3 linked regions of the Homo sapiens genome follow. The protein of the gene in region 2 interacts with the protein of the main gene of each other region in a pairwise test. Each region holds a gene or a part of one and is shown on either strand. Other genes may lie near its edges. The genes, in order: LCA5L, KRT76 and IPO11.

Region 1 (11,201 bases), on a different chromosome or scaffold from region 2:
CATGGGAATCCCCTCATTCTTCAGCTCCCAAAACTGCAAGCCTTACTTATATCTGTTCCTACCTTCCTTCCTCCTCCTAACCAAGGCCACTCCCTCTCCGTGCTTTGGATCCCATCGCTTTCCACTCGCCAAAAACTCTACCCTGTCAGGTATACATTCCCTCTCCTGTATGATCACCTGTTCCATCTCAGCTGGCTCTTTGCCATGGTTTTGAAGCATGTTCAAGTCTCCCATCACAAAAGAGAAAAAAAGAATCTTCTTTGACCCCACGTTCCCCTTCAGTTTCCAGTTATTGTCCAATCCCTTATCCCTTTCGACAGGCAAACTTTAAAGAACTGCCATATTCAATGCCTCTATTATTTGTCTCTCACTCCTCAGCCAGTATGGCTTCCCTCTTCATCTCTGCTAAAACAAAAACCAGGAATGAGACTTTTTCAGGCTTTGTCTTGCTCAATCTCTCAGCGGCATCTGAAACTGCTGCCCCCATTTCACTCTACAAACACTGTCTTCCCTTGGCTTCTGTGACCATCCCTGACTCTTCTGCTTTTCCTGCTGCCATTCTGGCTCACCCTCCTCTCCCAGGCTCCTTAATATTGGAGATTCTCAAAGCTCGGCATCTGTTCCCATTTTATTCTCCATTGCGCCCCTTCATCTAGCACAAGGCACAGATTCACACGCACAGCTTTTAAGTTCCAGCCCTGTGCTCTTGACTCCTACCTTTCTCCAACTTGACCCTTTCTCAGCTAGACTCGTACGTTCAGCTAGCTGCGTGACAGTGTTTCTTAATACCACTCAGTCTCCTCCAATTCAACATGCACAAAACCAAACAACCCCACTTCCCAACCCCAGCTGGAACCTCTTCCGTTGTACCTAGGATTCCTCCTTGACCCTTATCACACCCCAACACCCAGTGAATCCTTAAGCCCAGGTGAGGTTGTCTCCTGGGCATCTTTCACATCTCTTCATTGTCGTGGACACCCAAGTGCAAACCACCACCTTCATTCAGCCTGCCGCAGTCCTGTACCAGCTTGTCTCCCCACATTCCCTCTGGCTTTTCTCGATTCTTCACCCTGCAGCCAGAGTAACCTTCAGAAGGCAGAGCTGATTATGCCACCCCTCCCGCCTCCCTCTTTTGCCTACAGTTAGCTTCCCATTGCCCTTGGATTAATGATCCACATCATAAACACGCCTTCCGAAGGCCCTGCAGCTGTTCACCCCCGCCTGCGTCTCAAGACTCATCTGAAACCGCTGGCCCTTCTCACTGGGCTTCAGCCACATGGGCCTCCTCCACCCACCAGGCCTTGGCATTCTTTCCTCTCTGTCTGCATTGTTTTTCCCTCCTCCCTCTCATCCTCTCTTGCCTAATTAGTTCCCACTGACCCTTCCTATCTCAACTCAGACAGTACTTCTACAGGGATAACTTCCCTGATCGCTGTCAGGATCAGGTTTCTTTATCTTCACAGAGTTGTATCTCCTTCCTTGAAGACACTCTGGACAGTCACTATTATGATTAGTTCATTACTGACATAAGGCCCACAAAAATAGAAACATTTGCTGTTTGTGTTCATCATTGTATCTCCACACCCCACATAGTGCCTGGCACATAGTAAGCACTCAAATGGGTGCTGAAAGAATGAATGAAATGAACATTCTAATATGTAAGAGATACTAAGCGCCGTGTGTTTTAATACAATTCTATTAAAATAGAATGAAAATCTAGTAAAAATAATCAGGCAAACACTGAAAATTAAAAAGAATGTTGTGTCAGGGTAGCTAAAAACGGGTACTTGTGTAAAGATTTGTAGCCCTTTACTCAGTGCAGTACATTGCACTTGCCACCACTTGGTGGAAGTAGAGAGGCACGGGTTCTTATCCTGAAGGTGACTAGGGTGTCAGTCGGGTAGTGAATTCAAACATTTGTTCTAAAATATATAAAGTTGTTAAATTACCAAAACCTACATAGCATAGCTAGTCTGTAACCATCCAAACTTTGAACGTGGCACATTTTCATGTTATCAAATAAACTTGAAATTGCTTATATATATAGGTATATTTCATTTATGGATTTTAGTGCTAGACTGGACCTTATATGTCACTGAGAAATCACCTAATTTCTTGCCTTAGACATTTGAGGCCTAATAGCTAGTTGTATTGGCAGAACTGGGAACATACCTTTTTTCTTCCACAGTATACTGCCTCTCAATCAGTGTTTTGTTCGTTTGGTTTTTTTTGGTTTTGAAACAGGGTCCCACTCCATCCCTCAGGCTGGAATGTAGTTGTGCGATCACAGCTCACTGCATCACTGCGGCCTTGACTTCCTGGGCTCAGCCTCCTGAGTGGCTGGGACTGTCACACCCGGCTAATTTTTTTTTAGGAACAGGGTCTCACCATGTTGCCCAGGCTGCTCTCAAACTCCCGGGCCCAAGTGATCTGCCCACCTCAGCCTCCCAAAGTGCTGGGATTACAGGTGTGAGCCACCACGCCAGGCCAATCAGTGTTAAGAATCATAACCTCCCTTTGTCAATGTTTAGAGTGACTCGCAAAATTTCTGAAGCAAAAAATTGGGACACATAAAAGTAGATAAAGTGTTTGAAATAATGTTCTTGAAAACCGTAAGATATTGATTATCTTAGCTATATAATACCACATTTATAAGCTTAGAGAAGAGCTTTTCTGTTCATTTAACATTTTTGTCAAAGAGTTTAGAGTTTAAGCCTTTCATTCAATAGGAAGACCCTGAACTTGGGTCTGGCTGATGTTTTTTTCTAACCAGACAGGCTGTGCTTGTGGCAGAAAGACCACAGAAGTGGTGCTGTGATCTTCTCAAGTGCCCATGGACACTAGTGAATGTCACCTGTCCCACCCTGGTGACATGAACCTTGATTACCTGTTCAAGCACAAATCTGCCAGTTTTCTCCACAGCCACCTGTTTTCCCTTTGCATTTGATTAGTGCTTTGGGAAGAGATACTCTGACGTGGTAAATCCCATTTTGTTTTGTTTTTTTTTGAGACAGGGTCTCACTCTTGTCCGGGCTGGAGTGCAGTGTTGGCATGATCAAATTCACTGCAGCCTCAGCCTCCCAAGTAGCTGGGACCATAGGTGTGTACCACCACACCCAGCTAATTTGTTTTGTTTTGTTTTTTATAGAGATGGCATCTCCCTGTGTTGCTCAGGCTGATGTATCCTCCTTATTGGTATTGATGTTCAAATTGCCCTATCTTTGACTAGTGGGAGCTTCTTAAAGCTGGCTCCTGTGCCCTTTTGATACACACCAGCCTTTCTTCTCTTTGCCTGCCTCAGGCTTAGGATCATCCATTTCTCCAAGGAACCCCAATTCATTATAGCAGAGAATGGTATTTAGTGGAGAATGGTACACAGTGTACTCATTGTTTCTGGGGTGTCGTTGATTCTAGGCCCTCTCAGCAGAGTTAGGGGAAAAATACACGCACACATATACATACATATGTATATACACATACACATACATTTATAGATATATATGCACATAGATCTGTAACTGTATATAACTCCTTGTGTGTGTATGTGTGTGTATTTGAACCTAGCATTTCTCATTCTAATCCAACATTTCAGGGTTCTTTCCAGCCTTCCCTCTTTCAGACAGTAAGAAATTTGACCCCATGATTCTAAATATATTTACTTATGTCCTCAGTTAATTTGTTAGCTCTAATTAATTTCCTAACTTTGCCAGCTACCTGACGCCTCTTTGTCACTCCTCCCCCTTACAACTACTTCACTCTGCTTTCTCAGCCTTCAGCCATGCTTCTGCCACTGCCTCTGCAGGAAAGCCACCTGCTTTAAAAAAAAGTCTTCATGGAGTGCTTATGAGAGGGTCGGCTGTTTTCTCCAGCTCATTTTTCCAAAGCAAACAATCCCACCAGCTATCTCAGGTTGGTCATCTTGTTCCTAGATATAGTCCAAGGCAAGGTAAAGCAAGCTGGTTTCTGGAACAATTAAGATATTTCCCCAAAACGTTTGAACTCACCATCTTCTCTGACTTCTTGAAATTTATAACAGTGCAATTCATTTGCATTTAATAGCCTGCTTTTAGTCTCATTTTAATTTGTGATGTTTTTCAAGGTACCTGTATTAGTTCTGTATTGCTGCTATAACAAATTACCACAAACTCAGTGGCTTCAAACAAATTTATTTTCTTACAGCTCTGGAGGTCAGAAGTCTGAAATGAGTCTTAAGGGGCTAAAGTTAGGATGTCAGCAGGACTGATTCCTTCTAGAGGATCCAAGGGAGGATCATTCCCTTCCCTTTTCTAACTTCTAGAAAAGCCTGTATTCTGTGGCATGTGACCCCTTCTTCCATCTTGAAAGCCAGCAGCGTCGTGTCTTCTCCCTCTGACTCTGCTTCTGTGATCACAGAGCCTTCTCACTCTGACCCCTCCTGTGTCCTTCTTAGACAGGCCCATGTGATTACATTAGGTCCACATGGATAATCTGGGATAACTCAAGATAATCTTCCCACCTCAAGACCTGAAACTGATCACATCTGCAAAGTCCCTTTTGCTATATATAGTAACACAGGTTCTAGGGATTAGGACATGGACATCCTTAGGGGACCATTATTCAGCCTACCACTGTACCAAATGAAAGTCTTAAATCTTAAAAATGAGAATTTAACTCTATTTTACATGTAGACATTGATTGGAAAATGAACGTATCTTAGAGAACTTTACATATCTACACATACACAGATATGCTTTATTTTTTATAATATGCATTATCAGTATTCATCACAGTTATAATAACAATAATATGTTTTATCTGATTCTTTAATTTTTGCCATTCTGGTAGATGAAAAGCGGAATCTAATTTGCATTTCATTATGAGTAAGTTCGAACATCTTTTTATATAACTCTTGGTTTTCTGTGTTTCTGTAATGTGTTTATGCTGTAATGCATTCATATCTTTTGCCCATTTTACTAATGGATTATTTTAAGAGGTCTCTGCAAATTAAGGAAATTAGGTCTTTGTCATATGTATTGAAAATCTTTTTTCCAGTTTGTAAGATGCCTTTGAACTTTATTATTTTTTTAATTATAAGGAAGTTTTATATTTTTATGCAGTTATTTTTATCAGTTGTTTCCTTTATGGTTCTAGGCTTTATGTTTTTCCACACTCTGTGTTTTCTTTTAATAATTTTTTAAACATTTACATTTTGAACCCATCTAACCGTCATTTTAGTGTAAGAAATGCAATAAGAATCTGCTTTTGTTTTGATTTCCAGGTAGATTCTAGCCTACCTCTCATCATTTACTGAAGTCCACTTTCTCTACCTTTATCTTAGACTAGGTTACCATATGTATTTGTTTGTGTTTCTGTTTCTGAACTCTTTATTCCAGAATATTGTTCTGTCAAAGCATTAGTATCAGGCTATTTTAGTGACTGTAGTTTTCTATCTCAGTATCTGATCAAAGTAGTCCCTTCTCATCATTTTTGTTCATATTTCTTTGTATTCTTTCATATTTATTTCTCTATGTGAATTTTGTATCGTTTGGTCAAATTTCACAAAATTACTCAGTATTTCATTGAGAATACATTGATCATGTAGATTAAATTAGGGAGAATTTACAGCTTTATAATCTGTGTCCTTTTGATATAAGAACAAAATGTGTCCTTCACTTAAATATTTTATTTCAGTAGTTTTAAAGTTTCCTTCATATTATTCGTAGTAAACTTAGATGTTTTAAATATTTGGATATAGTAAGTGGGGTATGTTTCATCTATTTTCTAAGTCGTTTTATTTTGCATAGAGGAAAGATTATTTTTAGGGCCAGGCACACCTATAATTCCAGCACTTTGGGAGGCCAAAGTGGGCAGATTTCTTGAGCCAAGGAGTTTGAGACTAGCCTGGGCAACATGGTGAAATCCCATCTCTACAAAAACTTGGCCAGGCATGGTGGCACGTGCCTGTAGTCCCAGCTACCCGGGAGACTGAGGTGGGAGGATCACCTGAACCCAGGAGGTTGAGGCTGCAGTGAGCTGTGATCACGCTACTGCACTCCAGTCTGGGCAGTGGAGTGAGACCCTGTCTCAAAAAAAAGATTAATTTTATAGCCATTTTGTAACCTATGGTGTCAATTTAATTCTCTTGATAGTGTTTTATAAGTATATAATCATTTCATTTCATTTCCACATAATAACTTGCCTCTTCTTTTCCAATATTTAGACCTAGTACCTCCAGAACAATATTAATGAACAACAGTGATAGTAGGCATTTCTTATCTTAATTCTTACATCAGTGTAAATTAATGTTTCACCATTAAGCTTAAAGCTGTTTTTTTGTTTGAGATAGGTATTTATCACATTGGGAAAGCTTTCATTTGGAGCTTTTCAGATTGGGTTAGCAGTAATGAGAAGTTTTTTCAGGAGTAATGGATATGAAGAGAGGAATTAAGCACAGAGGCATCCGGAACATTAATTTATTTGATCAATATTTATTGGACACTTAATATTCTCAGGAACTCCTCTAGGCACTGAGGATATAGCAATAGACAAAGGAGCCAGAATGCATGCCTTGTGAAGCATGCAGTTAGTGGGGAAGCCAGGCTACAAACAGGCTGAGGAAGTAAAATGGGTGTTAGGTTAGATAGTATGTGTTAAAGAGAAAAAATGAAATGGGGAAGGCAATAGGAAATGTTGAGAATGGATAAGAAAAGAGGGAAAATTTGCATGCTGAGTAAGTTTTTTTTCCCAAGAGGCAGGACTGGTTAAGAATATAATTACTGGCCGGGTGCTGTGGCCCGGATCATGCCTGTAATCCCAGCACTTTGGGAGGCCAAGGCAGGTGGATCACTTGAGTCTAGGAGTTCTAGACCAGCCTGGGCAACATAGTAAAATCCCGTCTCTGCAAAAATAAAAAAATTAGTTGGGCATGGTGACACATGCCTGTAGTCCCAGCTACTTGAAAAGCTGAGGCAGGAGGATCGCGTGAGCCCAGGAGGTCGAGACTGCAGTGAGCTGAGCTAACACCACTGCACTCCAGCCTGGATGACACAGTGAGACTCCATCTCAAAAAATATGTATGTAATTACCTACCCATAGAATAATTTCAGCCAGAAACACAGATGTAATCATTTGAATTAAATTATCCTTATGAATTAATTATAAATTTACTACTGAATTTTTTTCATTATATGCGTGTAACAAAATATTTACTTTTAAGAATTAGGATTTTCTAGTTGTATTATTAACCAAGAATCTGATAATTCATGAAAGTATGGAACCAGAATACATTTTAGTATATAATACTAAATCAGTCACTGTCTCTGCTTCTAAAATACAATCCAGTGCTTACAATTAGCTACCAAGAGGGTCGTCTTTTTGTTATTTTTATTGTTGACAGGCAAGAAACACATAATCCAAAAACTTTAATTATTTATGTTCAACTCTGTACTGGAAAGAAAGAGCAGGCAGGTGAGCCACAAGATCTTTTCTGCCAAAAACTTGAAAAGGCACTGCTGTGTATGGCTCCTTCAAATCTTACTTCAACATCACTGTTTGATAATCACATCCAAGAATTTCCCAATCAACTGCCAACAGGTGATTCACTTTCATAGAGAAAAAGCCGCCTGTGGCCAGGTGCAGTAGCTCACACCTGTAATCCCAGCACTTTGGGAGGCCAAGGTGAGTAGATCACTTGAGGTCAGGAGTTTGAGACCAGCCTGGCCAACATGGTAAAACCCCGTCTGTACTAAAAATACAAAAAAATTAGCCGGGCATGGTGGCGGGCGCCTGTAATCCCAGCTACTCAGGAGGCTGAGGCAGGAGAATTGCTTGAACCTGGGAGGCAGAGGTTGCAGTGAGCCAAGACCACACCAATCCATAATACAAGGGAATATATATATATTAATTAAAACTGCTTCAAAACCTTATTCTTATTACATAAATATGTTTCTTTGTGAGATTGTAACATTTTCCTTTTGTAATACCATTTTAGGTTTTTTAAAATATATTCTTTCTTTAAAAAGAGACCAAAACCTGTCAAAAAAATACTACCGTGGAAAGCTCATAAATACTACAGTGTGAAGAACCCTGTGCTTATCTTCAGTTTATCATCAGACATCTTAGGGAAGTTTAATAAAGAACACCAGGTATGCAGTAATCACTTTCAAACATTTTAGTGTGTTTTATTTTCCATCTGCCTTGTTGCAAAAGCAGGAGAAAAGACACCTGACCGTTGTATTCAGAATGATTCAGACATATACCTTGATCTTGAACATTCTTATTTCTAATTCACTAATTAGATAAGCATAATATAGAAGTTTACTGTTCTTTTAAGTAGCCATCCCTTTCACCATAGTGCATTCCGGGAAAACGTAACCTCAACCAGATCAGATTTTTTCCATTAGAATAGTGTTTATAATTACTCATTGTGTTCCCGAGTCATAACAGCAAAGAAACAACTATAAACTCCATAATGATAGAGACATAATAAAATTATGCTTCATGTGCAGTAAAATAGGCACCACTATACTGTAAACTGTTCAAAATATAAATGCTGCCAAACTAAATCTGAACTATACTGTAAATTTGATACAAAAACTAGTGTAACTATAGTAGATATTAATTTTATAATTACTAACTTTGCCTATTTTAAGATCCTTTTGCCTTACCTTCTTCATAACCCCAGACCCTGGAAGACACTAAATAAATGTTCTTTGACTGAACATATTAATTAATTAAGAACATCAGTGGCCGGACATGGTGGGTCATGCCTGTAATCCTAGCACTTTGAGAGGCTGAGATGGGAGGATTGCTTGAGCCTAGGAGTTCAAGACCAGCCTGGGCAACATAGTGAGACCCTATCTCTTCAAAAACTAAAAATATTAGCCAGGCATGGTGGTATGTGCCTGTAATCCCAGCTAAATGAAAGGCTGAGGTGGGAGAACTGCTTGAGCCTAGGAGGTCAAGCCTGCAGTGAGCTGTGATCACACCACTGCACTCCAGTCTAGGCAACAGAGTAAGACCCCGTCTCAAAAGAAAGAACAGTAGGTGGTTGGTTTAAGGCCTGGATTTTTCAAAAATGCACCACATAATCAGAAATTTGTATGTGGAAACTACACTTTTTATTGATAACAATAGAGAAGTGTAGTGTATGTATATTAATATGAAGATTTCTGAAATAGTTTAATCAACTTAAAAGTACAGTTATAGGCCTGATACTAGTCATCAGTCAATTTTTAACAGGTCAGTGAGAAAACTGGTATTTAGCAGACTGAATATATGATCCTACTTGATACCTGCATTCAGGACACATTCATTGCCAACTATAGTAATAGCCAAGAATCAAACTGGGTTTTACTTTTGTTTACATTGCTGATAATGTCTCTCAGTCGCCATTTCATGGAAAAGAATAGAACTCACACAGTGCCAGGTGAACCCAAACATACCTGTATTGAGGTCATATAGGTAGAAATTTTAGGATGGTTCTGGAGTCCTGGGAATTCCAGAATGCTAGGAATATCCTGTCTCTTTGATGAGTATAATTTATGTACAAGTAACTCTTTTGGAAATTTACCTACCCTGCCAAGGCAGGAGAATTGGCAAAACTCTGTCTCTACAAAAAAAAAAAAAAAAAAAAAAGCTGGATGTGGTGGCATGGACCTGTAGTCCAGCTACTTGGGAGGCTGAGGAGGGAGGATCACTTGAACCCAGGAGGTGGAGGTTGCAGTGAGCCAAGATCGTGCCACTGCACTCCAGCCTGGGCAATAGAAGAAGACCCTCTCTCAAAAAAAAAAAAAAAAAGCTACAGTAACCAAAATAGTGTGGTATTGGTATGAATATAGAGAAACAGATCAGTAGAACAGTATAGAGAGCACAGAAATAGATCAACATATGAATATCTGGGTTTTTACAAAGATGCAAAGGCAATTGAGTGGGAAAAGGATAGTCTTTGCAACAAACGGTGCTGAAGCAATTAGATGCCCATATACCAAAAAATGAATTTTAATCCATAATAAGTAACTCAAAATGGATTACAGATTTAAAGTAAAACTTCTAGAAGAAAGAAAGGAGGATATCTTTGTGACCTCAGGTCATGCAAAAATTTCTTAGATACAGCACCAAAAGGATCTTTTTTTTTTTTTTTTTTTTTTTGAGACAGAGTTTCTTGTCACCCAGGTTGGAGTACAATGGCGCAATCTCAGCTCACTGCAACCTCCACCTCCTGGGTTCAAGCAATTCTCCTGCCTCAGCCTCCCAAGTAGCTGGGATTATAGGCGCCCGCCACCACGCCCAGCTAATTTTCTTATTTTTTGGTAGAGATGGGGTTTAAATTTGTTGGCCAGGCTGGTCACGAACTCCTGACCTCAGGCAATCCGCCTGTCTTGGCCTCCCAAAGTGCTGGGATTACAGGCATGAGCCACCGTGCCCGGCCAGGATCATTCTTCAAAGAACAAATTGATAATTGGGCTTCACCAAAATTAACAGTCTGCTCTTTAAAAGACATTTTTAAGAGAATGAAAAATCACAGATGAGGAGAAAATGTTTGCAAAGCATATATCTGATAAAGGATTTATATCCAGAATATTCACAGCAATTTTATTTGTAATAGCCCAAAACTGGAAATAGCTGAAATGTCTGTGAACAGATGAATAAACAAATTATGGTTTATACATACAATTGGAAACTACTCAGCAACTTAAAAACAAAACAAATGAACTACTGATATTGATGCACATAGTAACATGGATGAATCTCATAATAATAATGCTGAGTGAAAGAAGCCAACCAAATAAAAATACATACTGGATTATTCCATTTATATAAAACTCTATAAAATGCAAAATAATTGATAGTGACAAAAAAACAGGGTTTGCCTGGGTTGGGAGTGAGGCGCAGGGAAGGATGAGAGGAATTACAATGGGGTGCTGGGAGGCTTTGGGAGATTATGTGGTTGTGTTCACTGTCTTGATTGTGGTGATAGTTTCATGGGGATACACATTTCTAATCTTATCAAATGGTACTCTTACTAATTTTCTTTGATACCTCAATAAAAGAGGGTTAAAAATAAAGAATTGTATCCCAAAGGCTTAGGAATCAGTTGTGTTAAATATGTACGCTCAGTAAGCCAAATAAATTGACCTATTTGATACATTTTTTAAAATCTTCATTTTAAAATGTTAGCGAATCAGGTACAAAATTCATTTAAGTGTTATTATCATCTGGTC
Region 2 (10,892 bases):
TCCTGTCACCCTTTTGACCATTCCACACAGGTAAATGTCTACTCTACTTACCCTGGCTGCCTTCAAATGCAAAGAGCTGCCCCAGTTCTGCCTTCAGATGGGCGATGGATTGAGGGATTCTGCAAGGCTGAGACAGCCCAAGATTGCCAGTCTCCCACAGTCTTAAAAATGTTCTATTCTCCCCAGCCCCTATCCTGGCCTCAGACATGATGCCTTCACCCTGGAGCTTCACCATGTGCTCCACTGGCACATGATTTAGTGCCACTGTGTCAAGAACATGGAAGATGATACTAGTCCTGGAGTTCTCCTGGGATTTGGTCTGGATAGCTGAGCCCTGACCCCTTGCCCTTCCTCCATATTGCCCAGAGTCTCTTTCCTTCCCAGGCCTGCTCCAGGCTTCTTCTACAATGTGCCTTTCTAAATAGGCCCCTTCCTTTAATTCTAGGTATCCTTAAGTCTTTCATTACCTTCCTTGGTAGCCCCCTCCACCATTCCTCCTCACAAGAGTTCAAAAGAGGTTCCTAGGCCCTCACTGTAAACTTTTCACTCTGTCCTACCTTGGAGTGTGACCTATCTCATCTTCCATTCAGGCTAAGGGGATGCGGGGCCCACTCTCCTTATTCATCTCTATTCATCCTTTCAATTGACCACCAAACTTTCACTCAGTTCCCCACCTGCTAGGCAGGGCCCTGAGATTAGTACCCAGGACCCAGCTATCAACACACATGGAGCAGATGGATAAAGAGACTGAAGCAGATGTCTCTAAACCCTGCTGCTTCTGTCTTATGAGAAGTTGTGTTGACTCAAGACAGTCAGCCTCTTCCCATTAAGTTAAGCAACACATGGAGCAGAGCTCCCAGGGTGTTTTCCTGTGGGGAGTTGGGGAGACAACCGATTATGTTTCTTGCAGCGTCTCTTAAAAGGCCAGTAAGAGCAGCAATTCAGAACTGCCTGCCCCTGCTCAAAGTACCCAGAGCTAGGCCAAGGGAAAGTGGAAAGGGCACTACCTCCGGCTTGTGAGCCATGAAAAGATGGGCAAGGATTTATTGATCATTCAGGTATAGGAACTTTAAAATGCCCTCTTCTCCAATTCTTGAGGCCAGGGCTACTGTACTTTAGAGATTAGATGGGCTGAGCTAAGACTCAGAAATACGGAGACCAGGCCCTGGCACTCCCCTTGGACATCAGACAAATGTACAGATGCCCTCTTGTTATTCCATCCCTGACCTGTCTTATGGGCAGTAACACATGGTCTACAGTGACTTACAAACTAGTATTTTGCCATGATTAATGGCATGCAGAGGGCATTGGTTGGGGGACAGGGTGGGGAAAAATCACAGATCCTAAATGTCATCTCCCTGAGGCCCCCAATTTTCCTGGTTTCTCTCAGTGACTGTCTCATTACCCCTGTGCCCCCTGGGTTTGGGTTTCAGCTTTCTGAGAATGGCTGGTAAACGCTGGTGTGAGGGCAGGCACACATCATCCCTGTTCCTAATTTTACATCCATCTGGAGTGAGTTTTACTAGTTTAACACTCCCACCCACTCTCTTACCTGATCAATGAGTTTGGAAGGAAGAGTTGAGTTTGCAGAGCAATGCCCCTCCATCTCTTAGGATCTGGCTGTCCACAGTAAGATTATATTCTGCTCTCTTGTTCTCTCCCTCGACTATGAGGGATCTGACCCCATAGGGAAGGCCACAGTGGCCCTAGGCTGCCCCTGCCCAGGTGGAAAATCTGGCCTAATCCTGAGGTCCTGTGATAGGAGAAACCCTTTCCATCCGAGGTAAAAAGACACACGCTCCAGTATCTGCTTTCTTGGTAATAAAGGCAATATTGACCCTCCATCTGCTCATTCATTTGTCTTATTTTTTAATTGGCTCAGAACCTATGCAAGGAAAAGATGTTATGTATTGACCCCTTCAGATTCCAAGAGCTGTGTTTGCAGAAAGAGGATTGCTTCTGTGTCTGGCTGGGATGGGGATGGAACAAAGGAACTGAAGTCCCAGTGGAATCTGTTTCCTTGATGAACTGCAGAACTCACTTCTTCCAAGACTGAATTGCAGAGGCCTGCTCAGAGGCTGGAGGAAGGATGGGATGACTTTCTTGGGAGTGGGGAAGGTTTCCCCTAAACAACATACTCCTGGGCAGACCTATCACGGGAACCTAACCAAATAGGTGGAGAAGCCAAGACTATTCAGTGGCCTTTATACCCACTTTTAAATTCCTGGAAGACCATCACCCCCACCTGATTTCTCATCACTTTTGGGTCGTGATCTATTCTGTGACTCCTGGAATAAAAGACCAACACCAGAATGTGAAGTTCAGTGCAATTTATTGAGAAAAGAAAGTGCAACATACTCATCACCAGAGGATCTACAGCTCAGGGAATTAGGGGACAGAAGGGAGTCAGGATCTGAAGCCCAGATGTAGGGAGGGTTCCCTGGGAACCAGCAGTCTGGAGATCTTGGCCGTGCACCCTCCAGCACAGAACCCATGGCTCTGCCCTCCTCAGACAGTGCTGAGATGACTGGCTTCAAATCTCCAACTCCCAGTAAGAAAGGGAGATGGGCCAGAGTGGGAACAGGCCAGGCTGTGAAGGCCAAAACTGGCTTGGGCTCAGGGGTTGCTGTCCAAAGTAAGGGGCCATTGCAGGAAGGTTTCCAGGGGCATCATCATCCCAGACCAGCAGCAGGACCTCCATGGCCCTGGGAAGGTCATGGGGATGGAGAAACCAGGAGTTCAGCTTCTTCTCCAGGGAACTTGAGGAAAAATGTGGTTGACCCTTATGCATCTATTGATGCCAAGCAGAGAGTGGGAAACACTATTGCAGGCTGAGTGGGAAGCAGGTGGTTATAGAGATTTGGAACAGTAGATCACTTGGTGGAGCTATGCTGGCTTGAGCTCGTGGTCTGGGAGAAGCGGATACTGGTGCTGCCTCCACCACCAGACTTGTAGCCACTTCCTCCAGAAGTCTGGATGCTGCCAGAGCTGGAGCCCATTCCACTGTGGCTCACGGAGATGCTACCTGCACCGCCGAGCCTGCTCCCACTACTGCTGCTCTGGTAGCTCCCGCTGCTACCCCTGCCCCCAGTGCTGCCACTGCTGACCCCTCCATAGCCACTGCCGCTGCCGCCACTGACTCCATAGCCACTGCTGCTGCTGCTGCTGCTGCCGCCTTTGTAGCCACCACTGCCACTGCCACTGACCCCTCCAAAAACTCCACGGCTACTGCCAGAGCTGCCACTTGTGCTGGTGACATTGCTGACCACTGCTACAAGACAACAGGCACACAATTCAGGCAAAGGGCCTGGGAAACTGGAAGCCAAGGACTGTATTACATCCCCACCCTGCTTGGCCATGTGACTTCGAGAAAGATGCTAACTTATCTAATGCCTCAGTTTGCAAACCATGAGAGTGAGCCTGGCCTCTAGTGCCTTCTCCCAAGAACAGGAACCAGAAATCTACAGAAATTTCTGGTTTTCCAACCTAGGCCACTCCCCAAACCAGAGGGGCTTTAGCTTTGGCCTGAGAGGTTGTCAGCTTACACTAGGGGCAGAGCATGTGGCCATGGCCTGAGATCCTAGACGCTGTCAGGTGGCCTGACTTCCTTGGATGGAACAGGCCTTCTTGCCTGAAGGTCAGTCAGTGAGGTTGTTTCTAGCTGCCCTTTTACAACCCAGGGAGAGGGTTTTTTGAATGGGCTACTTACAAATGCACACGGCACTCTGACATTCTCCAGACATCCTGAAAAGGAAGAGGAGAGGTGAATTCTTTCTGTTATGAGTCAATAACCAAAGAGTTGAGAGTTCACAACTTTGGGAGCCACGCCCTCCCATTTGCCCCACTAGGGGTCAAGCTCCTGCAAGAAGAAAGCCTATTCCAAGTCTGTTTCCATGACCATATCTCCCCAGAAAAGGGGGCTGCTTCAAGAGTTGAGAATTCCCACACTTTTCCCCTTAGCCCTTAGAGATTATCTTCTCTAGGCAAACTACTTGATGCCCAGCTCTGCCTTGATTGGCCTGTCCCCACTTCTCATCCCCTGCTAAGACCATCTTCCCACCTTAGCATGCCCTTTCATTCTTCTCTACCCAGCCCTGGATTTTTTATTTCCAATTCTGCCTTTCCAAGAAGGCTTCCACAATGGGCCCTCCTGGGGTGGTGGTGACATGATTGGGGTTGTTCAGGGTGGAGAAAATATGGGAGGGGCTGAAACTCAATGCAGGATGGATTTGAAATGTACCACCTACACTGTCCATCTTCCTGTGTCTTATTCTTGTTAATGGAGCAGGCACATCCACATATCTGAGAAGATATGGATTGGGTCTGCATATCTTGCCAATGTGTGCCCACTGGTGTTGACCATTCCCTCCTCATCCCATGACTCCTAGTACACTTGACATCACCTTCACTCTCACTTTCCTTCTCATACTTGGGTTCTGCTTCCTCCATCAGATTGGGAGCTACCCAAGGACAGAGGGTTAGCTACTCCCTGAGCACATGATGCATTGGGCAGAAACTCAGCAGAAAGATCTCTCAATTCTTGACACTCCTTTAGCATTTGATAAACACTTGCTAAGACTTTATCTGCTGCTTAATGCTGTATTATTTTCCAAGAGCATGGATGTATCAACCGTCTCCCCATATGGACTCAGCTTCAGGGGTGGAGCTTGTAGGACTGTCTATATTGAGCTTTCCAGTATGGTAGCCAGTAGCCACATGATGCTATTTAAGTTAATTAAAATTAAATTAAATGTAAAACTGTGTTTCTCGGTTGCACTAGCCACATTTCCAGGGCTCAAGTGGCCAGTGGCTACTGTATTGGACAGCACAAGAATAGAAAATTTTCATCATCTCAAAAAGTTCCAGTGGACAGCACTGGTCTATCACTTGTCATAATGCCAAAGAACTTTCCTCATACATTGCACATAGTGAAGATCAATAGAGATATGTAACATGATATTGATGTCCATTAAACATTTGAGAGTTGGATGATCTTGATGGACATAAAATAGTGGGGCTTGAACCCTTGACTCTGTCATTCAAGACACTCCTTGCCCTTTGTCTTAGTGTTCCTCTCCTTATCATCTTGCCCCCTTTCCACATTATCAAAGGTCACTCTAAAACCATATCTGGAGAATGGTGATCCCATGGCCCCTCACCTGCACTCCTCTCCCTCCAGCAGCTTGCGGTAGGTGGCAATCTCCACATCCAGGGCCAGCTTGACGTTCATCAGCTCCTGGTAGTCACGCAGGAGCCGAGCCAGGTCATCCTTAGCCTTCTGTAGGGCAGTCTGCAAGTCTTGGAGCTTGGCATTGGCGTCCTTGAGGGCCATCTCTCCACGCTGCTCAGCCTCTGCAATTGCCGTCTGCAGGTTGGCATTCTGAGGTAGAAAATCAATTAGCATAGTGACCCGGAAACAAACACTTGATCCTTACTAGGAGTAGATCTCTTCCCCCACATCCTGCATCCCTTCCTCCCTTTCCTTAGAAATCCCAATGGAGCATGCTCAGAGAAAAGAAGTCAGTTTTGCAGTTGGTTAATTCATCTTTGTCCCATTGAAATCAACTTGCGGCTCATCAAGAAAGGGAGCACTAATTTGCTTTCCTATGCTGTTACAGGTAGTAGTGGTCTGGTTAGTCCCTAATCTTTTTTGCAAGACTGTTAAAAACTCTCTTGCCTAATCACTTCATTCCAATGATACAGAGCAGCCATCAAGGTTATGTGAAAGGTGTGAGAAACAGCTTCACTAAGGGCAGATCCTGCTGACATCTGAGTGTTTAAGTCCAGAACTGCAGTTGCAAGATTTGTTAGGCAAACTAGAATAAACAAACATCTTTCTTGAGTGAGCTTTCCAAGAAGTTCAACCTCCAACAAAAACATCTGGGAGAACAGAGTTTCCCAGACACTGCGCTATCCCACATGTGACACCATGAAAGGATGGAGAGAGCATGTAGCAGAGGAGCAGAGCTTATGCTGCTTCTCTCCGGGGCCCAGAAGACCTCTGGGATCTCTCCGTTAAACCCAGCCCCACCTGCTTCTTGACATTTTCAATCTCAGCCCGTAGCCTCTGGATCATCCTGTTGAGCTCCATGATCTCACTCTTGGTGTTCCTCAGGTCATCCCCATGCCTGCCAGCTGTGGTCTGCAGCTCCCCAAGCTGACAGAGGAAAAACCAATCAACGTGGCTTTTGCAAAGTGTTGGCACATTCTCAATGAAGGTCATCAGGATCCAAGGACACAGGGAGGGTTCCCACCTTGGTCTGGTACAGGGCCTCAGCTTCAGACTTGCTCCTCTGGGCAATCTCCTCATACTGGGCGCGGACCTCGGCAATGATGCTGCCCAGGTCCAGGCAGCGGTTGTTGTCCATGGACAGAACCACAGACGTGTCACTGGCATGGCTTTGCATCTGGGACAGCTCCTGCAGGAAACATGGATAGTTACTCTTACCATCGCCTGGACCAGGGGATGCTGGGAATCCTCTACTAGCGGAGATATCCCAAGGATGGGGCTAGAGGTGGATCAGTTGGAAAAATAAGCTCACATTTTAGGCCTGGCTACAGCCTAAAGGATGTTAGACAACAAGGCTAAAGGAAATATGCAAAATATGCAATATAATTAGGCTATCAGCCTGAAAGTATCAGCCAATGAGTCTTATTGTGTAAGTTTCCATGGGCCCCCAGCAGGGAGGAGTATTATGAAGAAGCCAACTATGACATGGGTATAGAAGCCAGAGAGAAGGTGCAGAGCAAAATGGCCTGAGGACCTGTGGGCCAGGTCTATGCAGACTGAAGAAGCTCAGTTAACATTTCCCAGGTGGGGTGGAGCTGAGTCCTGAGCCCCATTGCTGGTTTTGTGAGTGTTGTGCTGTTTGGCTGTCCCCTAAAGTTATGCTTGGGAAGAATCAGACAGGAAGGTTCTGCAGCTTGCAAACCAAGGAATCACCATCTCATAGAGGGTCCTCAGGAAGCTGACTTCATCTGTCAGGCTGTCCACTTTGGCCTGCAGCTCCACCTTGTTCATGAAAGCCGCATCCACATCCTGCAGAGGAGGTCAGAAACCCAGAGAATGACCCTCTGTTCCCCTCCCACCCAGTGGCTCTTTCCTAAGCCCTCATGTCTCGTCTTTGTTCCGCCCCCAGCTCTCCTCCTAATTGTGACTTCTCATCTTCCCTTTTAAAATAAGGAAGATCAAAATGGCTTTCTTCCTTTTCCTTGCTTGACATATCAAGCCCCAATACTTTAACAAAATACAAACCATAAGGCACAGAGTAACCATCTGATTTTAGGGTAGAAAAATCATATTTACCTAATATGTATGTGACTTTGGTTGTATAGTACCAGAAATCCCACCCTCCTGAACAGAAATTAGGGTATTCTCACTACTTCACTTTTACGATGACTGGTTTAAATATGCTACAAGTATTTGTTGATTGTTATTAATAGCATCTGGAGTACATTTGCAGGCTGAAAATCTTGATTAATCTTACACATAAAGGGCTCATTATTAGTTCGCATTGCTAATCAGCTCATTAGTCACAGTAACATTTTAACATACCTTTCCATGGTAATATACTTAGAGCAGCTTCCTTCATGAAACATTTCATTTCCAAAAATGTAAGGAAAAGTGTCAATCCCACACACAATATAAGGTCCCTGTGCCCCAGAACAGCTGGCTGTGCACTCTCTCCATGGGGGCAGCTCCCAGAAAGGAAACCTGGATATGCTGGTCCAGGCTCACCTACCTTCTTGAGCCCCACAAACTCATTCTCTGCGGCAGTGCGTTTGTTGATTTCATCTTCATACCTGGAACAAGAAGAGGCACACATTTGAACACTGGCATTTCAGAAGTAAAAAAGAGAGGTGAGGATTCCAGGCACTCTCCTCACCTGCGCAGAGACAGGACGAGCTTCATGGGCACGTGCAGTTACACAGGACCCTGGGCTCAGGGTCCTCACACTTAGCTCAATGCTGGCACCATATTGACATTCTTTCTTTTTTTTTTTTTTTTCTGAGACAAGGTTTCACCCTGTCACCTAGGCTGGAGTGCAGTGGCACAAACATGGCTCACTGTGGCCTCAACCCCTCAGGCTCAAGCAATCCTCCTGCCTCAGACTCCCAAATAGCTGGGACTGGAGGCATGCACCACCACGTCCAGCCAATTTTTTAATTTTTAGTAGAGACAAGGTCTCACTTTGTTGCCCAGGCTGGTCTCGAACTGTTGGGCTCAAGTGATTCTCCCTCCTCAGCCTCCCAAAGTACTGGGATTACAGGCATGATTGAAATTCTTAATAATTTTGTAACTAGGTTCCTGCATTATCATTTTGCACTGAGGCCTGAAAATCACGTAGCTGGTCCTGTCCAGAGACCTCTCAGAGCTCAGGGCACTGCCTGGCCCTCTTCCCTCTAAATGCAGTGATGGGCAGAGGTATGGGCAGTCAGTGAGAGGGCAAACTTCAAGGAGCCTGACCACTTGCCTAGGCTCTTTGATTGACTTTGCAAAGCACAATGTGTGCATATGGAACCCAGTGAAATGTGTGCTCTCATTGGGCATTTCTGCCTATTTCCTCAGTTTCTGTTTTCCTTCATTACAGTTACTTCTTATAGGAATTTCAGTTAAGAAAGAATTCATACCTTCTGAATGCATCAAAGTTGTGGGATTCCTGCCTGTTAAGGACTAAAATCTACTACCAAGAGTTTGTATTTCATAAAGCTTGAGGAATTGGACTGATTCTAGGAGAAAAGAGGTCTCTAGGCAGGACCTCTTTTTTTCCTCTAGGAGAAAAGAGGTCTCTGGGATCTCTTTTGGGAATATGAATCTGAGTTGCCACTGAATTCCCAGAGCCCAGCACAGAGCCTGCCACAGAGTGGGTGCCCACCACGTTTGTGTGGTTGAATTGGAATAGGGCCTCTGCAGAGCAGGTGTGCCCGTCCCTGTGGGTTCTGATCCCTGGGGAAGTCGGGAGCTCCCTCCCACCTTGAGAGGCCCAGTTTGCTCCTTGCAGACCTCAGCGGATATGGACTGCAACTTGGAACGTGGAGGAGGAGGCAAACCAAAGCTGCAGAACAGGAGATTGGACGGGACACACTGATAAAGGCCTTTACCAAGTGCAGCCCTGGACCTCTGCCTAGAATCCCCAGGAGCTAGGGGAACACTCACACTCCTGGGGCCTGTCCACACCTATGATTCAGAATACCTAAGACTGGAATACAGGAATACGCATTGTTGACAAGCATCCAAGGTGATTCCTGTGTCCAGTCAAGTGTGGCGGACTCCCCATCCTAAAGGATTCTAAACTCTGGGAGGACTCTTTTGTCCCTCTGGGCTGGAATAGGAGGGGGCCCATCTGGAGCCTGAAATCTGTGTCATAGCCACATGGGAGTCTCAGTCCCCACCCTTTCACCCCCTTCTGCTTTGTCATGTTTCACTCAATAAATCCATCCCAGAGTATTGACTGAAGGCACAGTTGGGAACAGTTGAAATCCCAAATTAGGACCACACCTCCCTGCTAATTCCCCAGAAGGGGAAACTTCCCAGGAGGAGCCCTCACTTCTTTTTGAAGTCTTCCACCAGGTCCTGCATGCTTTTCAGCTCTCCCTCCAGGTTCCCCCTCTCCCCTAGAAGTGAATCTAGCTGCTTGCATAGGAAGCTGATGTAGGATTCAAAACAAGGCTCCAGGCTGCTGGGCCCTGAGCCTGTGGTCTGCTGCTGGAGCAGTTCCCACTTGGTCTCCAGGACCTTGTTCTGCTGTTCCAGGAACCGCACCTGCATGAAAGAGGGGAGAAAAGGAGTCAGCCCCTTGAGTTGGGCATGTGGGGCTGCCCATCCCAAATGTAGAACTGTGGAGAAGGAACCCAGTTCTTCAATCTACAATTTCCCCTGTTTTTTAATTTGGGAAGGATGAAGATTTAGCAAAGGGAGAGCTAGAATTTGTTGAGTGATTATGCCTTACCTGTTATTTTCATGTATTTCCGTCACATTTAATCCTCACAACCACCTATAAAGGAGTTGCTGTGATCCCCATTTTGTAGATAAGGAAACTGAGACTCAAAGAGTTTAAGTTTCCCAAAGTGACAAGTCTACTGAGTGACAAAGCTAAGAATCAAACCCAGGACTGTCCTGGGTCTATAGGGATCCTTCAGAATACCACTGAAGGAGGTAAGCACAAATAAAGTTTGTCATTGTTTTTTAGATGTAAGCTTTTTTCAGCTCCATAAAGGCAGTGAATACAGTCAATGAGGTCTAACATTTCTTTAGAAGTTTCACATAGGAAGACCTCCTTTCAGTTATTCAGCTTGCAGCTGAACTAGAATTCACTTCAGATCCTGGGCTCAGTCCCACACAGACCCAGAACACCCTCCTCTGCCCCAGCATGGACAGCTCAGTTTAATTATTGGCTGAAGCACAGCATCATCTGGAAGGTAAGGCAGCTGCCAATGCACCTCATTTAGATGCAGCCTCAAGATCTGTGCTAACACAAGGTTTTGATTACCAGCTACTTTGGATTATCAAGCAATTGCTTTTCAGGAGAAATTAAAGTAACTGCAATAATTTCATGACTAAAATGGCTCATTCTTCAAAAAGCTAAGAGCATGTTTGGACCCCCACTTCATTTACCCTCATCTCATTCTTAGCAGGAAACCAGGACCAGGAATTCTTCCCCCCATTTCACAGCTGGAAAAAGAAGGCCCAAAAAGTGAAAGGGGCATGATCACTGTCCTGTAGGGACCAAGACAGCACCAGGACAAGAGCCAAGCGCCCCTGCCCTGTGTCTCACAAGTCCCCATGGCATCTTTCTACACCGACCCCTGGGCACCCCAAACCCTCCACAGCACCTCTTGGCCTTGCCCTCACCTTGTCGATGAAGGAGGCAAACTTGTTGTTGAGGGTCTTG
Region 3 (11,201 bases), on a different chromosome or scaffold from region 2:
GAAAATTAATTTTAGCAAATAGAAATTTTAGAAGTAGCTAAGTTATATTAATAAATTTCTAAGAATGTAAACCCAGTAAAATACCACAAGGCTCTCTTGTAACTTCCCATGCTTATAGTATTTAATAATTACAGAATGGTACTTAAATTCTCAAATTATTTACACAAAGCAGATAATACTTAGGTAGAAAATCCAAAGATCAGTTCTATTTGCCTTTGGAATGTATTGTGTTTCTGTAACAAATTCACCTATTTAAGCTTTCCTTTAGTGAACACTACATGTAGCTTTCTTTATGTCAGCATATGTAAAAAAGGGAAGTACAGTCCAAACCTCTGCTGACAGGCAAAAACCAGGTGGGTTCAAACTAAAAATAAAATTTGGGGGGGTAAAGGGAGGGAGACTGAGAAATGATTAAAAAAGATCTTAGCACAACTCAGGGGAGAAAAAAAAAATCACTTAATTTTACCTAAAACAAATTGAAAATCAGGAAAAGACAGCGAACATGTATATTAAGTCACTAATATATTCACCCAGGCATACAGTAAAGCACCAGTAGGAAAAAAGAAAGAAAACTATTCTTTACAATTTAAACTTCTTAAAATCATACGCCTGTAAAATTACTACTACTATTTCAGTAATTTTATAATAAAGCAGCAAACCTACTGCTTTGAAGGGGGAAAAAGCAATGAAGAGCTTACTATCAAGTTCTCAGTAACAAAATCAACAATAATATATGAATACCATAAAGAAAGAAAAATTCCTTAAAAGAGCCCAATAATTCCAAAGGCTTAAAAAAAATTCTCAAAATGAGGGACAAAGAATCAACAGTAAAGATGAAATAAATTATGATGCTATTTCAATGCCAAAGTCTATCCTGATTTTTAAAAAGAATATGTAAGCTATAAAGGGATTTTTTAAAACTGCCTTTTTTTCTAAGAAATTATAAATTACTTTATAATAGTAGAGCTTAATTTTTTTTTCAATGACTAGTAATGGGAAGGGCAAACAAGAATCAAAAGATTTTCTACCCTCAAATCAAACTGCTCACCAAGGAATAACTAGTGCAGTGAAAGGCCATAAACATCATAAAGAAAAGACATAAACTGTTGTGAACTTGATGATTTGCACAGATGAAACTTTAAAAACTAACTCTTTTAAGGCACTTAAGAAACATACCACTAAATCTTGATCTTGAAGCAAGTTACAGATTGCTTCATAAAGCATGGGTCTTAAGTCAGACTTGAATTTCACAGAAATCCACTGACCGATGAGCCAAATCACCCTGCGTCGCAATGGCTTATACCTAAACAGGAAAAAATCATGAAATTAAAATGTTAAATATTTTAAGAGGTCTATTTCTTTTAGTATAATTTATCATTTAAATCTAAAATGTAGTAAGAATGCAATCTGCATTTTTAATATAAAAGCTTAAAAGCAGGTGTGCTGGCTCATGCTTATAATCGCAGCACTTTGGAATGCCAAGGAGGGCAAATCACTTGAGGCCAGGAGTTGAAGACCAATCTGGGCAACATGGTGAAACCCCATCTCTACTAAAAATACAAAAATTAGCAGGGCGTGGTGGCATGCACCTGTGGTCCCAGCTTCTTGGAAGTCTGAGGCATGAGAATCCCTTGAAACCCAAGAGACAGAGGTTGGCAATAAGCCAAGATTGTGCCACTGCACTCCAGCCTAGGCAACAGATCAAGGCTCTGTCAAAAAAAAAAAAAAGCTTAAAGCCTACTTCTAAATGTACCACAGTACAAAATATTAACAATGAAGTCTTGATCTAAATAAATATTATTAAAACTTTTAGTACTTAAAAATTCCTAGGCATATATGTTGTAATCCTGACTCTTTTATCTTAAAGAACCGCAATGTAGGTATGTTTCATAAAAACCAAATCCATTTGGTTTTAGCTCAAGTAACCAAAAACAGTGGCAATGCCCCAAACTCTAAAACTGGAAAGGTCCCCAAAAATAATAATAAAGAAGCTCCTGTATGTAATTTTCTACTCCAATTCTGTTAATACTATGAAGATTATTTTCAGAACAATGTAAGAAACTTCTAGGCTTATATAAAACTTTCATATAAATTTTGTGATTTCAACTAAGCTAATTTTGTAAGAGGTACACAATAACAGAATGTGACTCAGATTACCAAAATAACATATATTAACACTGGCAAAACATTTACAGTAGCACATATATACATTTCTTTCTTTCTCTCATCATCTTCGCTAAAAGAAATCAAAGTTCAGGTAAGGAGAAAAATCATGCAGTTCAAAACATTTGTGTCCAAGAATTTCACTCATGAAGTACCTTTTTGATATTATGTAAATTTTAGTGGCAAGATGATAAATATTTCTGGGTATAAATGAAACACTTTTTTTTTTCCCAAAAAATTGCAATTTTAAAAGATGATCAAGCACACAGGAAAAAACTGCTCATTAAAGTTGCAAAAACTGGGCCGGGTGCAGTGGCTTACACCTGTAATCCCAGCATTTGGGAGGCTGAGGTGGGCAGATGGCTTGAGCTCAGGAGTTTGAGACCAGCCTGGCCAATATGATAAAACCCTACCAAAACTACACAAAAATAGCTGGGCATGGTGGCACACATCGTGGTCCCAGCTGCTCAGGAGGCAGAGGTGGGAGGATCACTTGAGCCCAGGAAGCAGAGATTGCAGTGGGCCAACATCATGGCACTGCACTCTAGCCTGGGTGACAAAGTGAGACCCCATCTCAAAAATTAAATAACATAAATAAAGTTACAAAAAAAAGTATGTAAGTATTCCCTGCCCCCAAGAAGTTTATAACACACCTAAAGGAATTTAAAAACACAAAGTAGTGTACTAGGACTTTAGAAAAGGAAGAGAAGAAATGGGCAGAGACAGACGGAATCTGAGCAAGTCTTTGAGATAAACAATATTGGAGCCAAAGGGTGGAAAAATGTCATTTCAAGGGACAGAAACTGTTTGAACCAAGTGACAGAGGCAGAAGTAACAACTTGTGTAGAGTGAGGTAAAAGCACCAAAGAACCATCAATTTTGGGACTAAGACCATATTAGACTCTGTTCCAGATAAAGAATATGAAACTCAGAAAGGTAAAATTCCAAACTCATAGACACATCCAAACAGAAGTAAAAGTATAGATCACTTTGCTATTTAATGTGTGCATTGCTTGATTTTTCCCAGACCTACTAAGTCAAAACCTAAACTTTAACAAGATTACCAGGTGACTCATATGTACATTAAAGTTTGAGAAACACTGGTCTACATCAGCTTTGTCCATTAGAAATATAATGCAGGCCACATATGTTATTTTAATTTTTTAGTACCCACATTATAAGAGAAAAGAAACAAAATCTTATTCTTTGGGAGGCCAAGGCGGGCAGATCACGAGGTCAGGAGATCGAGATCATCCTGGCTAACACAGTGAAACCTCGTCTCTACTAAAAAAAAATACAAAAAAATTAGCCGGGCATGGTGGCGGGCACCTGTAGTCCCAGCTACTGGGGAGGCTGAGGCAGGAGAACGGCATGAACCCGGGAGGCAGAGCTTGCAGTGAGTCGAGATCGCGCCACTGCACTACAGCCTGGGCAACAGAGCAAGACTCCATCTCAAAAAAAAAAAAAAAAACTTATTAATATTTTTACATATCCCAATATATCCAAAATATCATTTCAACATGTAATCAATAAATATTTTACATGGCTTTAAATTTTAAATTTAAATTAATTAAAATTGGAAAGTTGTTGCCTCAGTTGCACTAAGCACATTTCAAGTGCTCAATAGCTACACGTAGGGAGCTTCTGCACTGGACAGTGAAGGTCTTACACTAAATAGCCTCTAGGGTTTAAGGACAACTAAACTGCACATTTGTTTCGCCAATGAAAGCTTTCTCTCCATCAAAGGCTCACTAGCTCCCTGAGACTAAGTCAGAGTCTATTTTATTTAACACCGCCTATAGGACATGGCAAATTCCAAGTGTTAAAAATATATGTTAACTGAATAAATGATTGAATAACTGAAGAGATAAACAGCTACTTACTGTTAAGAATTACTTTTAGAGTATCTCCAGCTCTACAAATTCTGTGGCTCTAAATGTGACCTATGCATTCATTAGTTTAGTCAACAAATATTAACTATCTATGACTATATGCTAAGTATTCTGATAGGCCCCAGGTATACTGAAGTGAATCAGTAGAAGTGTATCCTTCAAATTAAGAAAAAAGCCCCTTAGAATTTTTTCAAATTCTCCAATTTTAAACTAAGAAATAATTTTATAAACTATGAAAGAGGTTTTTCCTTTCATTTTATGCATTCAATACCTAAAATTTAAGTAGACAAGTGCTTAAATGTATATAAAACGTAAGAATTGGGCTGGCCAGGTGTGGTGGCATGCGCCTGTAATCCCTGCTACTCAGGAGACTGAGGCACAAGAATCGCTTGGACCTGGGAGGTGGAGGTTGCAGTGAGCTGAGATTGCACCACTGCACTCCAGGCTGGGTGACAAAATGAGACTATTTCAAAAAAAATAGAATTGGGCAAATGTGCTATTAAATGTACTAAATTAATTCATTTCATAATTCATATTACTAAATGTAATATGAATCTGTACTATTTAATTAGGTACCTCAATTAGAACTTAGAAAGGGTATTCAAATATTTTTGCCATGATGTCTCTATATCCTACTCTACCGTCTCCCCAGAGACTTGCAGTATGCATTATGTGATCCCAAGACATTCATCTTTCACAGATGTTACTTTGATTAGGCTACTTCTGACACTAGGCATACATCCTGCTAAGTTTCGAACTGTCTTTTTCTTAGGCATAGTTTCTTGAACTCAGAGACCTCCATCCTCCCTCATCTTTGCATAAAGTCCTCCTTTTCTCCTGCAAACTACCTGATATATCAAATACTTCCTAGATGTCAAAATTCTTATTCCTTTCCACATAAGACATTACCTAACTTATACGATTGCATTTTTTAAATTGTAAGCCATTTTAATGCCTTCCTGTCTTCATTAATAAAATAAATAAGGTAAAGTAAGTGTATAATAAATATAAAATTTTATACTTGCCTATTGTGAATGACTTGTAATTCTGGAAGAAGCTGGTTTTTAAACCACTGATCAAAATCAACACTGTCAAAGAGCTCATAAGCAGCTAATCCAACAGCATTATACACTGAGAAGAAAATTTAAGAAAAAAAATTAAAGGTTTCAGATATCAGATCTGCAAATGAGTGTATGAAACATATGTTAATTAAAGGAAACACACAATATGCTAATCAGGGAAATTATTTAAGTAGAAATAATTTAAGTAGAAGAAATAATTTATTTTAGAAACACTATTTTACTTCATGTTTTTCCTAAATATTCCTTACTACTTTCAAACAGATAATTCAATTCATTCTAAAATATTTAAGTCCAACTATAAAAATTATAAAATAATGCCTGCTTCTAAAATGGATGTAATATTTTATGATCTGGTCCCTACTTAACTCTCTCCAGCCTCAACTCAACCTTTAACCCCAATGTTCCAGTTAAACCAAAATAGTCACAATTCAAATTCTAACTGTGCTTCCTCCTCTTTCCTTCAAGTCTTTGTACTTATTGCTCCATCTCCCTGGAATGCAACACCCTCTTTCCATCACCACCTCCTCACACGTGTAACTCCTACTTATCCTTGTGTTCTTCCATTACACTTCTTTGGGAATCTTTCCTTAGACACACCAAACTATCTGGTGATCATCACCTACTTTAGCATTAACTATCCTGTATAGTATTATTATAATACATTATCTGTTTACTTGGTTATCTCCCCAATCAGATTGTTCCTGTATTTTAGTTACTCTTGTATCTCAACACCCTCAGCACAAAATCTACCACAAAACAGACTCTCCATCTACTGAATAAATAAATGCTTCTAAATCACTTAAGTTTAACATACCAGCATCTTTGATTAACAGTGCATTCATATCTTCCACATTTGTGGGTCCTAAAAAATATATATATAAATAGGTATCAGTAAAAGCAAATAAAACTAGTTTTTTAAAAAATTTATATTTAAACACAATTTGTTAGTTTCCCAATTCAATTAAGTATAACACATTTCATGGTGTCAAAAATGGACACAAGTACAAAGGGAAAGTCTAAGTTTTATGATTATCATTAGAGAACACAGGATTAAAAACCATTATAGCATATTTGAAAAATGTTATGACAAGCAATATTCTAGAAAATATACACCACAAAATGCTAATGTGCTATATACCACAAAATTATTTTTTTTGAGACAAGGTCTTGCTTTGTCACCCAGGCTGGAGTACAGTGGAGTGAGGTTTTCTCAGTTCACTGCAGCCTCATCCTCCTGCGCTCAAATGATCCTCCAACCTCAGCCTTCTGAATAGCTAGGACTACAGGTACTAACCACCAGGCCCAGCTAATTTTCCTAATTTTTGTAGCGACAGGTTTTTGCCATGTTGTCCAGGCTGGTCTGGGACTCCTGGGCTCAAGTGATCTGCCCACCTCAGCCTCCCAAAGTGCTGGAATTACAGGCGTGAGTCACCATGCCTGGCCAACACTCATTCTGACAACATGCTCTTCTCTAGGATACACCACTACACCTGGCATTTTTACAAGGCTTTTATTTACTCATATCCCTATAGGTGAAAATCTCAGGTTCTGTCCTTAAGATCCTCTTTTCTTTTCCCAAGGCTCCTTACATACATGCACTCCGAAAGTATATCTCTATCTCCTACCACTTCTAATGAGGTAACTGTTTCCTTGTCATTAAGGCTCAAAAGTTTAGGATCATCTTTGATCACTTTTCCTTGCCTAGCACATTCAATCGGTTGCTAAAAGTCAATCAAGTAACAATAGTTACTGAATATGCCCAGCACTGGGAATAAAATATAAACAAAACAGACGTGATCAATGCCCCTAGGACTTACAGTCTAGCAGAAAAGACAGAAATCATAAATCAATGTTAGTTAATAGGCAGATAATTAGTTACTTGTGTACAAAGTGTAATGACCAAGTGTCAAAAATTTACATCATCATTTTCTCTCAAATCCATAATCAATTATTTCCATTCCCACTGCCACCATTCTAAGAGAGGCTAACACTATTTTAACCTTTTCTCACTATTTCTCACAACACGCTCCAGATAGACTTTCTGCAAGCAGTATGACTACTGTTTTGCTTTTGCTTCTATTGTATTTACTACAGGAAAATTTATCATCGTCCAAACTATAATTCAAGGCCTATCTCAAATGCCACCCCCTTGGAAGATAATAAGTTTTAAAATTGTTTTTCTCAAATTCATATTTATTATATGACCCAGGAAACAGTACAGTATGCATTGTAGGCACTCAGACTATTTCTTAACTAAACGTTAAAGAGATTAACTCAAAGTTAATCACAAAATATGCCTTACCTTGAAGTGTTTGCATCATTTCTAGAAGTACAGGAGTAAGAGTCTGATTATATTCATGGAATATATCTATAAATAATACTTCAGTGCATGGCTGGAGAGGGAAAAATACAAATTTCTCATCAAAACAGTTGCATACTATATTGACTAATTCTTTAATAAAGCAAATACTTAATCTTAAAATTCTAAAACTTTGAAAATGTTTCCAACTTTTGATTTGTTAAAAAAAAAAAGTAAGGTTACCATTTTTTTATAACCAACACAAAGGAAAACAAAATCGAATTATAATTAATAAAAGAAAGTTGATTTCATTTCAATTATTTGTCATTACGCATTCAAAAACTTAAAACTATGGCAAGCAAAGTGTACATTTTAAATTAATCATACCTTAAATTTAAAAAGCATTCTGTAGCCACTCATTTATAGCTCAGTACTATAAATGGCTGACTACCCAAGATTCTTTTTTTTTTGAGACACAGTCTCACTCTGTCACCAGGCTGGAGTGCAGTGGTGTGATTTCGGCTCACTGCAACCTCCACCTCCCAGGTTCAAGCGATTCCCCTGCTTCAGCCTCCCGAGTAGCTATTATGTATTTTCTTAGCAATGATATAATAAGCAAAAACAGGAACTCCAATTTGCCAAATAAAGTAGCCTTTCTCTTAACAAACACAAGCGGTAACAGAAATTAGCATTAGCTACATTTAAAAAAATGATTTGTTTGGTTCTTAAAAGTACTGAATCATTTCACATTGCATGCTGGTATCAAAACATCTCATGTACCCCATAAATATGTACACCTACTATGTACCCACAAAAAATTTTTTAAAATAATTTTTTATTTAAATTTTAAAAAGGAATTTAATCACTAGATCGTTCACAATATTTAAATTTTTTAATTAAATTTTTAAGGTATTGTGTGGTGTTTTAAAAGGAACATTATAAATATACACACTGAAATATGGTCAGAGGATGTGTCATCTCAGATAACCATCAACACTGGGAGATGTTTACAGGAAGCTAAAGTAGCCATGAGTTGATAACTAATAAACTAGCTTATCATGAAGGGCTCATTATATTATTCTATTTTTTAATATGTTTAAACTTCTCCATAAAAGAAACTTTTAAAAATTAAAGGAATGAAATTTTTTAAAGTTTTAAAATCACCAGTAATCTCTCTGGTTAACAACTGTATGTTTATGAATCTAAAAACATTAAAGATAACATTTTTAGAAGACAAATAGCTAATTATGTAAATTATGTAAGTGCAAATCTTAAAAAGAAGAGCTCAAACATCACATCTGGTAACGGCAAAACATTTGTCATATTAATAAATGCGTTGTAAAAGTATCCTATAACTGAAAGCAATGGGCTAGTCTCTGAGAATCACATGAAGTGGTAAGAGAAATAACATACCAAAAGAAACTTTACTAATGAAATATATAGAAGGAAAAAATTCTAGCTTAAGAATGGCAGCTTTCAGTTTGACAAACATTTTCTATTTGTGTAATGACAATTATTTCCCAAGCAATGTACTAAAAGATGAAGAAAAAATTTGTTTTCCGACCCCAAGTTAAACAAAAGAAAAGGCCAGGCACAGTGGCTCACGCCTGTAATCCCAGCACTTAGGGAGGCCGAGGCGGGTGGCTCACGAGGTCAGGAGATCGAGACCAACCTGGCTAACAAGATGAAACCCCGTCTCTACTAAATAAACAAAAAATTAGCTGGGCGTGGTGGCGGGCGCCTGTATTCCCAGCTACTCGGGAGGCTGAGGCAGGAGAATGGCATGAACCCAGGGGGCGGAGCTTGCAGTGAGCCGAGATGCACCAGTGCACTCCAGCCTGGGCAACAGAGTGAGATTCTGTCTCAAAAAAAAAAAAAAAGAAAAAGAAAAAAGAAAAAAAACTCAGATTAAACGTCATAATTTAATATGAATATAGTTCTTAGTTTCTTATAAACAGTTTCTTATCTGTCTGACTTAATGTTGGGAATCTTTAATTTTTTTTTTTTTTTTTTTAAGAGACGGGTTTTGCTTTGTAATCCAGGCTAGAACGCAGTGGCATCATCATGGCACACGGCAGCCTCAACCTCCTGGGCTCAAACAATCCTCCTGCCTCAGATTCCTGAAGAGTTGGGACTACAGGTATGCGCCACCACTCTGGTCTAATTTTTTTTTCCTTTTTTTACTTTTTGCAGAGACAGGGTCTCACTATGTTTACCAGGCCGGTCTTGAATTTCTGGCCTCAAGCGATCCTCCCACCTTGGCTTCCCAAAGTGCTAGGATTAAAGTGTGAGCCACCATGCCCAGCAAATGTCTGGAATCTTTAATAGAGTGTCATTCTCTACTAAGAGCTTTAGAAAGATTAAGCTTTCCCCTATCAATTTTTCTTGCAATTAATACTTACCCTCAAACTATATTTCCAAGAATCTCCTCCTGTTTCTTCCACTGCTGCAATTAAAAATATGTAATAATGACATTTTCAACATCTTGGTTTAGAAAACAAAGATTTTAATAACATCAGTATAATATTTTTGTGAACTCTTTTAAACATAACATTAAGAGCAAAGCCTTGGGAACACAGGCCTTACACAGATTTTGTTACTATATGCTACAGATCACAGTTGTGTATCTCACAGTCGTCTATTAAGTGCTTACTATATCCATAAGCATTCTCATTTTCGATAAAAATTCTTTATGGAAAAAAGCTCAAAGTAGTTGTCATTTCCAGGGTATCTGCTATCACCTGATCCAATATCACTAGAATTCTGAGAATCATTTCATTTCAATACAGTAATCATGTTTCACTAGGTACAATGATTACTCACACTCTCCATAAATTTCTTGAATTTAAAGAAAAATACTTCAGGGCTCTTAAAAATTTAGGGACTCAACACTTTATGTTACAATGTTGTATGTACTATATAAAGAAAGCAAATTGAAAAAAGATGTTTCAAAAAAAGCAAAAAAAAAAACAAGAAAAGACATGTTGTACAGTACAATCCTGTATTAAAACTAAAATTACTTTTAAAAACCAAAAGCATGGCGAAGATAAGTATTACAAAAACTTTTGGGCACTCTTAAAATATTAGGAAACGTGTAACTACACAAGGGTACACAACCAAAGAGAAAAGGGAGGCTAAAATCTAGCCTATGTCCCACCATAGCTTAAGTAATTCACATACAAGTAAGTACTTTATTAGACACATGATTCCTTGATTTTCTATAGCAAGGGTCCCAACAGACTTATTCTACTTATCTATCTAGTACTAAAATTCAAACAGATATAAAGATGTCCTGTCCAAAAAAAAAAAAAAAACTATTCATCAAAAACCTCCAAATTTCTTTGCAAGAATTTCTACAAATAAAAAATAACATGGAATGAATCACAAAATAGAAACTGACAGGGTAAGAGAGAGTTAATTTTATATTTTTGTTTGAAACTACATGATATATTTGTAAAGGAATCCAAAAACTAAAAAGGTCTTTTCCTGGACAAAATTCTACAACATATTTGCATAAGTCATTCATTTTCTGCTTCTCAATTTGTTCTAATGGATAACAACGAAAGAGTAAGTTAATTTTAAAACACCAAGATTTCCAGATCAAAAGTGCTGTATGAAAATACAATATTATACCTATCACTCAAACAGATATTTATAGAAAGGGGAGAAAAGTCATTCTAACACTAAAAAATTAATTCTTACTAAAGCCTTCTGGGTCTTCTTCCCACATTGTCAGTTCTTCTTCAGTTAATAGGAAATAATGAG

Evidence for each region.
Region 1: the proteins of KRT76 (region 2) and LCA5L interact in binary tests that used the Homo sapiens proteins (3 or more experiments, as listed by UniProt).
Region 3: the proteins of KRT76 (region 2) and IPO11 interact in binary tests that used the Homo sapiens proteins (3 or more experiments, as listed by UniProt).

Annotation. Positions count from the first base shown.
Region 1 is NC_000021.9:39,432,342-39,443,542, reverse strand, and holds part of LCA5L (lebercilin-like protein), read left to right. Parts: intron 1-3,769; exon of another isoform or gene 3,770-3,909; intron 3,910-4,824; exon of another isoform or gene 4,825-4,859; intron 4,860-7,375; exon of another isoform or gene 7,376-7,446; intron 7,447-7,969; 5' UTR 7,970-8,123; intron 8,124-11,201.
Region 2 is NC_000012.12:52,765,840-52,776,731, forward strand, and holds the end of KRT76 (keratin, type II cytoskeletal 2 oral), read right to left. Parts: coding exon 10,853-10,892; intron 9,764-10,852; coding exon 9,549-9,763; intron 7,804-9,548; coding exon 7,743-7,803; intron 7,040-7,742; coding exon 6,944-7,039; intron 6,420-6,943; coding exon 6,255-6,419; intron 6,158-6,254; coding exon 6,032-6,157; intron 5,381-6,031; coding exon 5,160-5,380; intron 3,745-5,159; coding exon 3,710-3,744; intron 3,272-3,709; coding exon 2,874-3,271; 3' UTR 2,316-2,873; downstream 1-2,315. UniProt on the Homo sapiens protein: Probably contributes to terminal cornification.
Region 3 is NC_000005.10:62,484,100-62,495,300, reverse strand, and holds part of IPO11 (importin-11), read right to left. Parts: coding exon 11,139-11,201; intron 9,883-11,138; coding exon 9,839-9,882; intron 7,531-9,838; coding exon 7,440-7,530; intron 6,000-7,439; coding exon 5,952-5,999; intron 5,187-5,951; coding exon 5,081-5,186; intron 1,304-5,080; coding exon 1,177-1,303; intron 1-1,176. UniProt on the Homo sapiens protein: Functions in nuclear protein import as nuclear transport receptor. Serves as receptor for nuclear localization signals (NLS) in cargo substrates.